Homo sapiens: one gene and its partner. The protein of the gene in region 2 interacts with the protein of the main gene of each other region in a pairwise test. Each region holds a gene or a part of one and is shown on either strand. Other genes may lie near its edges.

Evidence for each region. Proteins that work in one complex are often made in the same cells at the same time.
Region 1: the proteins of CSDE1 (region 2) and WNK1 interact in a two-hybrid assay, tested with the Homo sapiens proteins (one large-scale study listed by BioGRID).

Annotation. Positions count from the first base shown.
Region 1 is NC_000012.12:901,719-906,834, reverse strand, and holds part of WNK1 (serine/threonine-protein kinase WNK1), read right to left. Parts: intron 1-5,116. UniProt on the Homo sapiens protein: Serine/threonine-protein kinase component of the WNK1-SPAK/OSR1 kinase cascade, which acts as a key regulator of blood pressure and regulatory volume increase by promoting ion influx.
Region 2 is NC_000001.11:114,736,647-114,741,762, forward strand, and holds part of CSDE1 (cold shock domain-containing protein E1), read right to left. Parts: intron 5,028-5,116; exon of another isoform or gene 5,019-5,027; coding exon of another isoform or gene 4,881-5,018; intron 3,245-4,880; coding exon 3,046-3,244; intron 1,427-3,045; coding exon 1,317-1,426; intron 918-1,316; coding exon 825-917; intron 210-824; coding exon 112-209; intron 1-111. UniProt on the Homo sapiens protein: RNA-binding protein involved in translationally coupled mRNA turnover.

The DNA.
Region 1 (5,116 bases), on a different chromosome or scaffold from region 2:
CTGCTGGGCTCAGGCAATCCTGCCATGTCAGCCTCCCAAAGTGCTGGGATTACAGGTGTGAGCCACCATGCTCAGCCTAGCCATTCTTTAAATAGAGAGAGGTAATAAGAGAAGTAGCATGCTGTGTTCAGAAAAGTTTTTCACCTGGACCCATAAACATGAATTTGCAAACATAAACTTGGGAGGGGTTAACCTCTCCCAATTTCCCATGAGTAAAGAACAAGATTATTCATGAGGAAAGGACTGTATGGTGTGCCTGAATCTTTCAACTTCAGGAAGACATGGTTTTCCTGAAGATGACCTCAGTTTCAATTGGCTCAAGGATTCCCACCGCTTCTCCCCACTCTTCCCAGAACAGCAAGCACTCCCATGTAGAAGCGACAAGAAAATGCAGCTGAGGCAGGGTGCAAAGGGGAGGAGGAAGCTTTGCGGTTATGATGAAGGAACTCTATTTCTGCGGTTTGATGAGAGAGGAGGGAGTCTATGCCTGCCTGATTTCGGCTCTGCTGGAGGGCACACTGAAGATTATTCCAAGAGGCACGTTTTGGGGAAGAGGGAAAGAAGAGTCATGGTCTTGTCTGTTTTCCTTACCCCCCACTGTCTTACCAGATCTCACGTGTTACAGAATAAATAAAAGCTCCTAAAGTAAGTTGTGAACCACTAGTCCTTAAGGTACCCAAGTAATGCGGGGGTAAGTAAGTGCATGCGTTATCCTGCTTTCAAGGTCAAAGCAGCACCAGATCACAGCAGCACACCTAACGCAATCCTGCCACTTCAAAGCCTGTTACTGACCATCGCTGGTCTCAAGTCAAGCTTATATCCTACCACCTGGGGAATGGCACACACAAGCAGGTCTGTGCTGCAGTAACAGCTAATTCTGAGGTGAAGCTGCAGTGAGGAAGGTCACATGCTTCTTACCGCTATGGCAAGACACGGAACTACTGCAGTGTGAGTGTCAGCTCATTTCTTGGTGTCTGCTGGAGCCACAAGGGGATTGCTATTGCACATACAGTGTGAAGGGAAGAGTAAGCTCCCTACAGTACAGGAAACGCGAGGGGAGAAGCATGAGAGCACAGAAAACAGCCTTCCATGAACAGCCAATGTGAGAGAGTGGTGAAGTGGGAAGCACAGGCAATGAGGATGGGCAGTCATGACAGTGAGTGACTCAATCTAGAAAGCAAGCATATCACATGCATGGGGATTGTCATCCTGTTTGAACAATTATTGCTTGGTGAGCTTGATGTGAGAGACAATCAAAACAAAAAACAGAAATAATCACAGGGGAGCAGAGCTGTCAAAAGCTAAATACAAGAAGCTCAGGAGGCGTGACCATTGCTTATCCACAGAGCTCATGCTGGGAGACACACCTCTCTAGTCTGTCGCCCCTGATGCTGCGAGGCCCCTTTAGAACGAAATTTCACTTTTCATTTTACCCTACATTACCTAATACAGGATTCTCTATGAGGAAAGAGAAACCATGAGGAAGAGTCAACCATACAGCTAAACCTTCACGTTCTGGCTTCTGTATACAGGCCTCCCATTAAAGAATGAAACAAACCTATCATTTTCTGACCAGAAATTAACTCCTAAGAAAAGGAGACTTGACTATAAAAGATGTAGAAAGGCCTTTGAGAGAATATGCTAACTTCTTAACCTTTTTTAGTTCTTCTGAAAAGCCCTAATAAGTAGTATAGACTTACCCCCAAGATTCATTTTTAAATTTCCTCCTGCCATTATAATACATTTCCCCTATTCCCACATCACCAGATCCTACTAACAATAACCTATTATGAACCATAACTTACAGCCCAACATCCCAAGTACAGAATTTCCCTGTTGACCCTACCTACAACACTGTAAGTGGCCTTCTCATTAAAGTATGAGAAGCCACAGTCTAAGAAGACAAACTCTAGAAAGTGGTGTTTTTCTCCTCGTCAATCTAGCACACATCTCCCACTTCAGTGTGAACGTGGGAGGGCATGGACTTTTGTATGCTTTCGTCACTGCTGAGTTTCCAGTTGGGGTAATAACACTGCCCGGCACATATTTGCTGACCAAAGGATCGCTCTCCCATAGGAACTAGGCATCCCTGACCTCCCTATATATACCCATGGCCATTACCAATCCATGTCTGTCACAAGCTAGGCTCACATGGGGTTATCACTGAGGGCACCGACTAGGAGATGATTTCTCAATTAAGCATGTTAAATATTTATTAGAATAGGATACAGAGATAGATGGAAGTTAGGAATCAGGGAGCTATGAGACTGCAGAGTTGAAAGAACTCATGGTTAACAGGCTTTGCAATCAAGGACCAAAAATAACAGAAAAGATAATTACTACAGAGCTGGTTGCAAGGACAGACTTTTTTCACCATCTTCCCTGAAGCACAAAGAGAGAAGCAATGTGTTAAAGATAAAGAAACATCAGTGTAAAATATTTAGAATCTCCAAACAGCACACAAACGCCCAGCAAGAGAAAGCAGGAGGTGAGACAGATAGGTAGGACCTGGTAGCCCTTGAACAGATATAGTTCTACAGAATGTTTCGAACTGGCTGTTAGCCTTAACATGATTATCTGATGGGCTGTGTTACGTGGCTGACAGATGTGGAGTTTCTACACCCAATCTTTGTATCTAAAAGAGTAATGCCCTGCACTGAGGTTCTGGAATTGGCGAGGAACTCCAGTCTCTCAGGTCTCACTGCTTGAATTTCAAATACCCAAGCAGCGTTTCCACTGATCCTGTCCCACTTCCTGTTTCTCCAGCTGGGCTGTTAAAAAGCACTCAGTTAAATGCATTAGCAACCCCACCACAGTAGACTGATAGTATCACTGTTACAGCTTTAAGTTCATTTAAATTGGCTATTATATTTCCACATCCCACATATATATACTAACCCCTTCCCTTCCAGAATAGTTTTTAAAAGTACGTGGAAAACAAGCAACCTCTGAACATAAATATAGCAGTAAGCCAAGCCGTGCTTCCAAACCATTATCTATTTTGAGAGCATAGAATAATACATCTCAAGCTAGTAAGGTGCCCTACTCTTTCAAGTACCTGTTTCCTTTCCATATTTCAAGTATGTCTCTTGGGATTTGTTTACCAGGCTTACATGATGTATCCTGATGTGACTTCTAAGGATGTAGGGCCTTTCATTTTGCACCCAAAGGGAAGTGACAAGATTCAATATTTCTGACCACTTTCATTTGAACAACAGGGGTAATACCACCTACCTTTAAAAGTGGGATGAGAATTTATGGAATTTAATTAAAGTGGTATTTGTCACATTATATTTCAGAAACAGAAGCTTTGGTTCTCTTTCTTCCCTCTCAGACACTTCAGGCTGTAGACCATAGGCCTGACATGTCACATTCTACTTCAAAAACACCCCCCTTGCAACTTTCTAGGTGGACATGCAAATTAAATGCTTATTCAACTGTCAAAGTGCTAATATGCACAGTCCAGGAAAGTCTGACCAGAAAAATTATTGATCTGAGTCCTCAAAAAAAAAATCACACAAGCCTGGAAAACGATCGAATTGGGTAATGCCTTCCACCCGCTTCTTTGTTAAACAGCCTGGGACTAGTGCATGTGGGGAAAGTCAGTAAAGACTGCCTCTCAAGTACAGCTAACTCATTACTAATACAGGTACAAATAATAGGGGTGCTGGAAGGAGCCAATCCATTTCTAATGCAGGTAAAAATAACAGGGGTATGTGTGAGGGAAATGGCAGTTAAACGTGTCATATGCTTCGCTTTAAATCTAGTCACTACAGAGAACAAAGGGAGGTTGTAAATTCTTCCCACCGTGAAGAGGCCCAAGGGCCTCTGACCCATACTCAGAAACAGTGATGGCCTGAGCACATGCATGTAAAAAGCACTTCAATAATCACATCAGAAGTTTGAGGCCTTAACAGAGAAGATCTTTATTCAAATTATAACAAAGGTTTTTCTACTTGAACTATGTTTTTGTTTGTTTTAAACTGTTCTTCCACGAACAGTTATTGACTACCTGTTCTGTGCCAGGTAGGCACTGACTCATCAGAGAGAAACCATGAGTGCTTTTCAAGCGCTACCTGTTTCTCTGTACATGATCTTAGCTTGATTTGTACGATGGCCCTAGGACACTGGCATCATCTCCATTTCACATATGGGGAAGATGGGGTGACTTGCTATTGTGCCTTGTTTTTAAGTAGAAAGCTGCAAAATCCCAGAAATCATGTTAGAAGGAGAATTTTCACTTGCAGATGCTGGGCTTTGATCTTTATTAGACTAAGTGCTTTATCAGAATAACCAAACTAAAAACCGCTTTTGATTTTATGGGGTTAGAGGACAGTAGTGGTGGAATGATCCAATGAAGAGATCCTAGCATCTTTTCAACTGGTAGCTGCTTAGGCTTAATAGAGAAGAAAAATAAGATTTCAATCTACTCTGACAAAGAATGGAAAAAAATGGTACATAATTTTTACCTGCTGCCAGGATCTAAGAGCATCATTGGTCAAAATGCTTTCTTCATTTCGTTTCTTTTTTTTGAGATAGAGTCTCACTCTGTCGCTCAGGCTGGGGTGCAGTGGTGCAATCATGGCTCACTGCAGTCTCAACCTCCTGGTCTTAAGGTGGTAATCCTCCCGCCTCAGCCTCCTGGGCAGCTGGGACTATAGGTGCACACCACCATGCCAGGCTAACTTTTTTTTTTTTTTTAGAGATGGGGTATCACCATGTTGCCCAGGGTTGGTCTCGAGCTCCTGGCCTCAAGCAATCTTCCCGCCTCGGCCTCCCAAAGTGCTGGGATTACAGGTGTACGCCACCGTGTCTGGCTGATTTCTCTCATTTCTAATGCTAGGGCAGACAGACAGCACTGACTACGACTGTGGAGTTCAGTCTTCATTATTCTAAATGACCCAGCAATCTATTGCCTAGATACCATATCCACTCTCTGTCACAGATCCATGAAGAAGCACTTCTACCAGAAAGTTACATTGAAATTTGTAGATAACTTGTTATTTTGACATTTTTTATCATAATTAATGTGGGGGCCCAAACTTCTGAGGGTAACAGTAATTCAGCCAAGCCACTGAGTAGATGATATACAAAAAGAGACAAATGAAAATGGACT
Region 2 (5,116 bases):
ATGAAAACTATCCAGACTTACAAGTTAGGTTTTTAACTCTATTCAAATTTCTTAATGGAGGGGGGAAAAAAAAACCGCTTAGGTGAGAAAATTTAAAAAAAAAGAACTTACTGTTTATTGTTATCAATTACAAAGTTTATTTTATCTCCAGTTTCCAGCTGAACGTTCCCTTCGACATCTTCAGGGGTGTAAGTCAGATAAAACACTTCCTGTGAATTAATAAATCATTATTACTATTTTGGCAGGATGCATATTCACTGTATACTGTGATTTACTTACTTAAAAACCTCTTATACTGGCATTTTAAGCCAAATTTCTTAAAATTAAATGCTTTATGACAAGTCACTTTATTCATATAAACACACACTTCCCCTCCATGGTGCTGATGACTTCTGCGAGTCCACAGCTGAGCAGCAATCCAACTTCAAAAAGCTTACACACGTGGAAGCATTTGCCCAGAGACTATAGTTACATTTCAAAAAAACAATTTTATATAAGGCATTCCAAACAAAAAAAGCTGGTGTTAGTGCTTAAAAGAAACCAGAAAAAGATCCCCCCCACAACCCCCAAAAAAGTGATTAAAAGGAACATTTTACCTTAATGTTCTAACTAAGGTCATACTTGGGCAAACTAAGACACTTGGAAGTCCTATGGAATTTTTCTTTTTAAATTTTTTGATTATGCTGCATTTGAAGCCTCTTAGAAACCAAATTTAAAACTGATTTTAACAATTGCAGCTTACGTTTTCTATTTTGAATTTTAAAGTACGCTTATAGATCACATGGTGGATCAGGCAAAGGTTTAAGAAAAATACACAAGTTTACCCCATTACGTTCGTAGCATACACTCCCTGTTGGACTCTGACCCGGGGCAGCTGGAGATTTACTCTCTAAGTTGTGAGGAACAGCGCACACAACCTACCAGTCAAAAAAAAAAAAATTTCCATTGCTAATCATTTCAGGAGCAGCACTGTGCAATATAAACTGAATTTTAATATCCTCTATACTATATACAGGGATGCATTTTAATATGATCCACAAGAGGATGTCATGCTGCCAAGTTTCAAACTTACAGTATGTAAATTGACTGTAAGCATTGACTCAGGGTTATATGTAAAAACCCAATTGAGTCTTGACCATATTTTTATTTCAGGTCAAGAAATGCCAGTGCTTTTGATTAATTTTAAAATAGTAATCTTTATATACTATAGCTCTCTTTCGTGCAAACTGAGGAGATGGGGAGAATCTTCCTTTTCTAATGTGAAAGATATGCAAATGCAGGGCCCTAAAAAAACACAAAGCATCAAAGTCACTAACTTGTCCATTCATTCGTTCTTCAGGGAGGATTTCTTGTTTTATCTTCACCAGTTTAACAGCAATGGGTTTCCCAGTCCGTCGGTCCGATGATACTTCAAATTCAACATCATCTAAAAATAAATAATGTGTTATGTTTGTTGAACTGATTTTTGCGAAACGATATATTGCTTCCAAGCTATACTTAACATAGCATTTGAATTGCCTTAGACCAGTGGTTTTCAAAGTGTGGTCCCTGGACCAGCAGCATTAACATCACCTGGGAGCTTAAAAGAAATACTGGGCCTAACTCTAGTCCTAGCCAAAGACAAACTCTGGGGATCAAGTATAGCAATCTGTGTTTTAACAAGCCTTCCACTAATTCTGATACACACAAATGTTTCAGAACCACCATCTTATGCTAAGATAGCCATGTCTTAATCTTAGTTTTTATGGCATTTACACATACTACAAATGAGATGACTTAACAATCATAACCTTTGGCGAGTTTTTTTTTTAAACTCCTCTGTACCTCAGTTTTCTCTTATGTAAAAGGAGAATAATTCCTAACAGGACTGCCATGAGGATTAACCAAAACAATGTTCCTATAGCATGCATCTTGTTAGCTATTATACTGACTCTTTTCTCAAACGTTTTTTAAAAATGCACAGAGGCCTCATAATTTCAGTCCTTTAGTAAGCCAAACACTTCACATGTAAAAACTTTTTTTTTTTTTTTTTTTTTTTTTTTTTGAGACAGAGTCTCCCTGTCACCCAAGCTGGAGTGCAGCGGCACGATCTCAGCTCACTGCAACCTCTACCTTGCGGGCTCAAGCGATCCTCCCACCTCAGTCTACTTAGTAGCTGGGACTACAGGCACATGTCACGTTCCTCAGCTAATTTTTGCATTTTTTGTAGAGATGGGGTTTTGCCATGTTGCCCAGGCTGCAAGCTGGTCTTGAATTCCTGAGCTCAAGCAATCCACTTGCCCTGGCCTCCCAAAATGCTGGGAATACAGGCATGAGCCACCATGCCAGGCCTGTGAAATAATTTGTATGGTGTCAGCCACAATGAATTTCCATATAATCTAAGAGGTGACTTTTTTTTTTTTTGAGACGGGGTCTCGCTCTGTCGCCCAGGCTGGAGTGCAGTGGTGGCATCTTGGCTTACTGCAAGCTCCGCCTCCCAGGTTCACACCATTCTCCTGCTTCAGCCTCCCGAGTAGCTGGGACTACAGGTGCCTGCCACCACGCCCAGCTAATTTTTTGTATTTTTAGTAGAGACGGGGTTTCACCGTGTTAGCCAGGATGGTCTCTATCTCCTGACCTCGTGATCTGCCCGCCTCGGCCTCCCAAAGTGCTGGGATTACAGGCGTAAGCCACCGCGCCCAGCTTCTAAGAGGTGACACTCTAAGGATTACTTTTTTCAGGTACTACCCAAAATAGTACCTGACAGAATAATCATAAGTAACATTACAAAAGTTCAATATTCGTACTGGCTTAAAATCTTACGGGTAAACAGTCATCATTATGGGGAAAAACAATGAAATCTTCCAAGCATTTATTGTAAATATATGCAAATATAATCTTTCAAGGATTCTGCTGGTTTATACAGATATTCTTCACTAAACAGTACAACTAAAAGTCCAAAATGTTTTAATTTACATAAAACTTTTTGAAAAACACTCATGAACAAATTGATATGCAAGACAAATTTTGTGATTACATTTTTACAAAGGAGAACTGACAGATTACCTCCTACTTTTAAGTCTTGCAGGTTGCCATTATACTGTGAACAGTGGAAGAAAAGTCTAGCTTGACGTTCTGAACACTGAATAAATCCGTAAGAGGTTAACAGTTTTTCAATAACCCCAGTTTCACGCAGTGCTGCTGAAGTACCATTAGGGTACCCATTATGTCCATTGTTGTGGAGAAGGTTTGGATCAAAGCTCATCTGTTTTAAAAAGAAAAAGAATATATACATATCTGTACATTATCTCCATAGCATATTAAGTCTGGTTAATAAGTCACTAAATCTTCCATATAAAAACGCAAAAAAAAGTAAAATGAAGGGAAGATTATAGACTTTATTACTGCAGCATTAATTTAGCTAATAAAACATTTCAGAGGAAACAACTTATTATATTGGGGAATTGCCCCAAATTATGGTAGAATTTCCACTTATCAGACAAAAATAGAATTTCTGGGGTTTAATATTAAGGTATAGCAACTACATTAGCAAATGCTGCCTTTACATGAAGTGAAAATTACTAAAACAACAATTTCAGAACAAAGGTAATTAATATTAAGAGACAGCGACCACAAACTACCAAAGACTCTTAAGAGATTTGGTAACGCTATTTTGAAACTTCAGCCAATACCTTAATACTGTTTAGTAAGTCATGCATTTGGAAGGCATATTTCAAGTTAGTAGAGATTAACACAATAAAATGAACTTTCTATGCAATACTTAAACTAGAAAATTTCAGAGTAATTCATGCTTAGGTCCTTTAATGAAAGACTATCCAAAATAGTGCAGTAGAAAACTTCTGAAACAACAAAACTCCAAGACAGCAAAAGCATTTCCATTTTAAAAATGCTGAATCATTTCACAGGTACATTTAAAGAAATCTTTACCTAAAAGAAACCCTTCACTTTTTACATACTGATGAAATCTGTAACTATCACTTCGTTCCCATTCTTTAGTGAAATAGGAGCTATTTAAAAGCAATATAATGGAATCTGCCTAGGTCATAAAATACTATCACATTGGATGTTCCATTTCCCTTCTTTGAGTAAAACAACAAAAACTATAAGTGAAGCACAAAACAGGACGAAATCCTTAGCAAAGCCTAGGTCTATAATTTACCACAGTAATGACATTTCTAAATCATTACAATTATGTTTTAGACCCTTTCACTGAAAATCTGATTTATAAGTATTTCCATTTAAGTGGAATGTTGGGCATTATTAATAAAAAGGATATATTTTCACTAGGAAAAAAGAGTAACAAATTCTAGAAAGATAAACCAAAGTTTGAGTCAACGATATGTGTGATGGTCAAATCACGTAAATCAAAGCCACCACACCTGTAGGTGGTTACGTCCTAATTCTTCTACACTAGCCACTGTTCTGTGTTTAACATATATTAACTCATTTAACTTTCACAAAAGCCCACAAGAAAGTATTGTATTCGCCTCATTTTACCAATGAGAAAACAGACACAGAGAAGTTAAATGACTTGCCAAAGTCAAATAGTAGAAGATTCAAACCAAGAAGGTCTGGCTGTAAACCAGGGCTTCTCAAATGAGAAGTTAAAATATAAAATCAGACTCAGTAGGTATGGGGATTTGAAATTTTCCATCTTTATTAAGATCCAAGGTGATAATAATGCTTCTGATTCTTAGATATACTTTGGGCAGTAAGACCCTAATCTACTGAAGTTATCTTTCAAGAGTGAAGGTGAAAAAAATGATTCGGGAAGTTAGAAGGTGAGTCGGCAAGATATTTCAACCAGAATGAGTGGCAATCCTAGGTCATGCTCTTAACACAAAGCAAGGTAAGCTGAGATGACTGCTTTCCTGACTTACAGATCTCTGATAAGTTGGGGTCCTCTTTTGTTTTTTAGTCCCAGATGAGGTAGAAGATGAAGATAAGGGTAAAGAAAGTGAAGGAGGGGCTGCAGGAGAGGGATGAGGATCTGATGACACAGTAAAAACGTTCTCCATCTCAAACAGCTGTTATAACATAGCATAATGTTGATAACTATGATCAATAACAATTTAATGCACATTTCACAGTCAATATATATTTTTAGCTTGGGTTT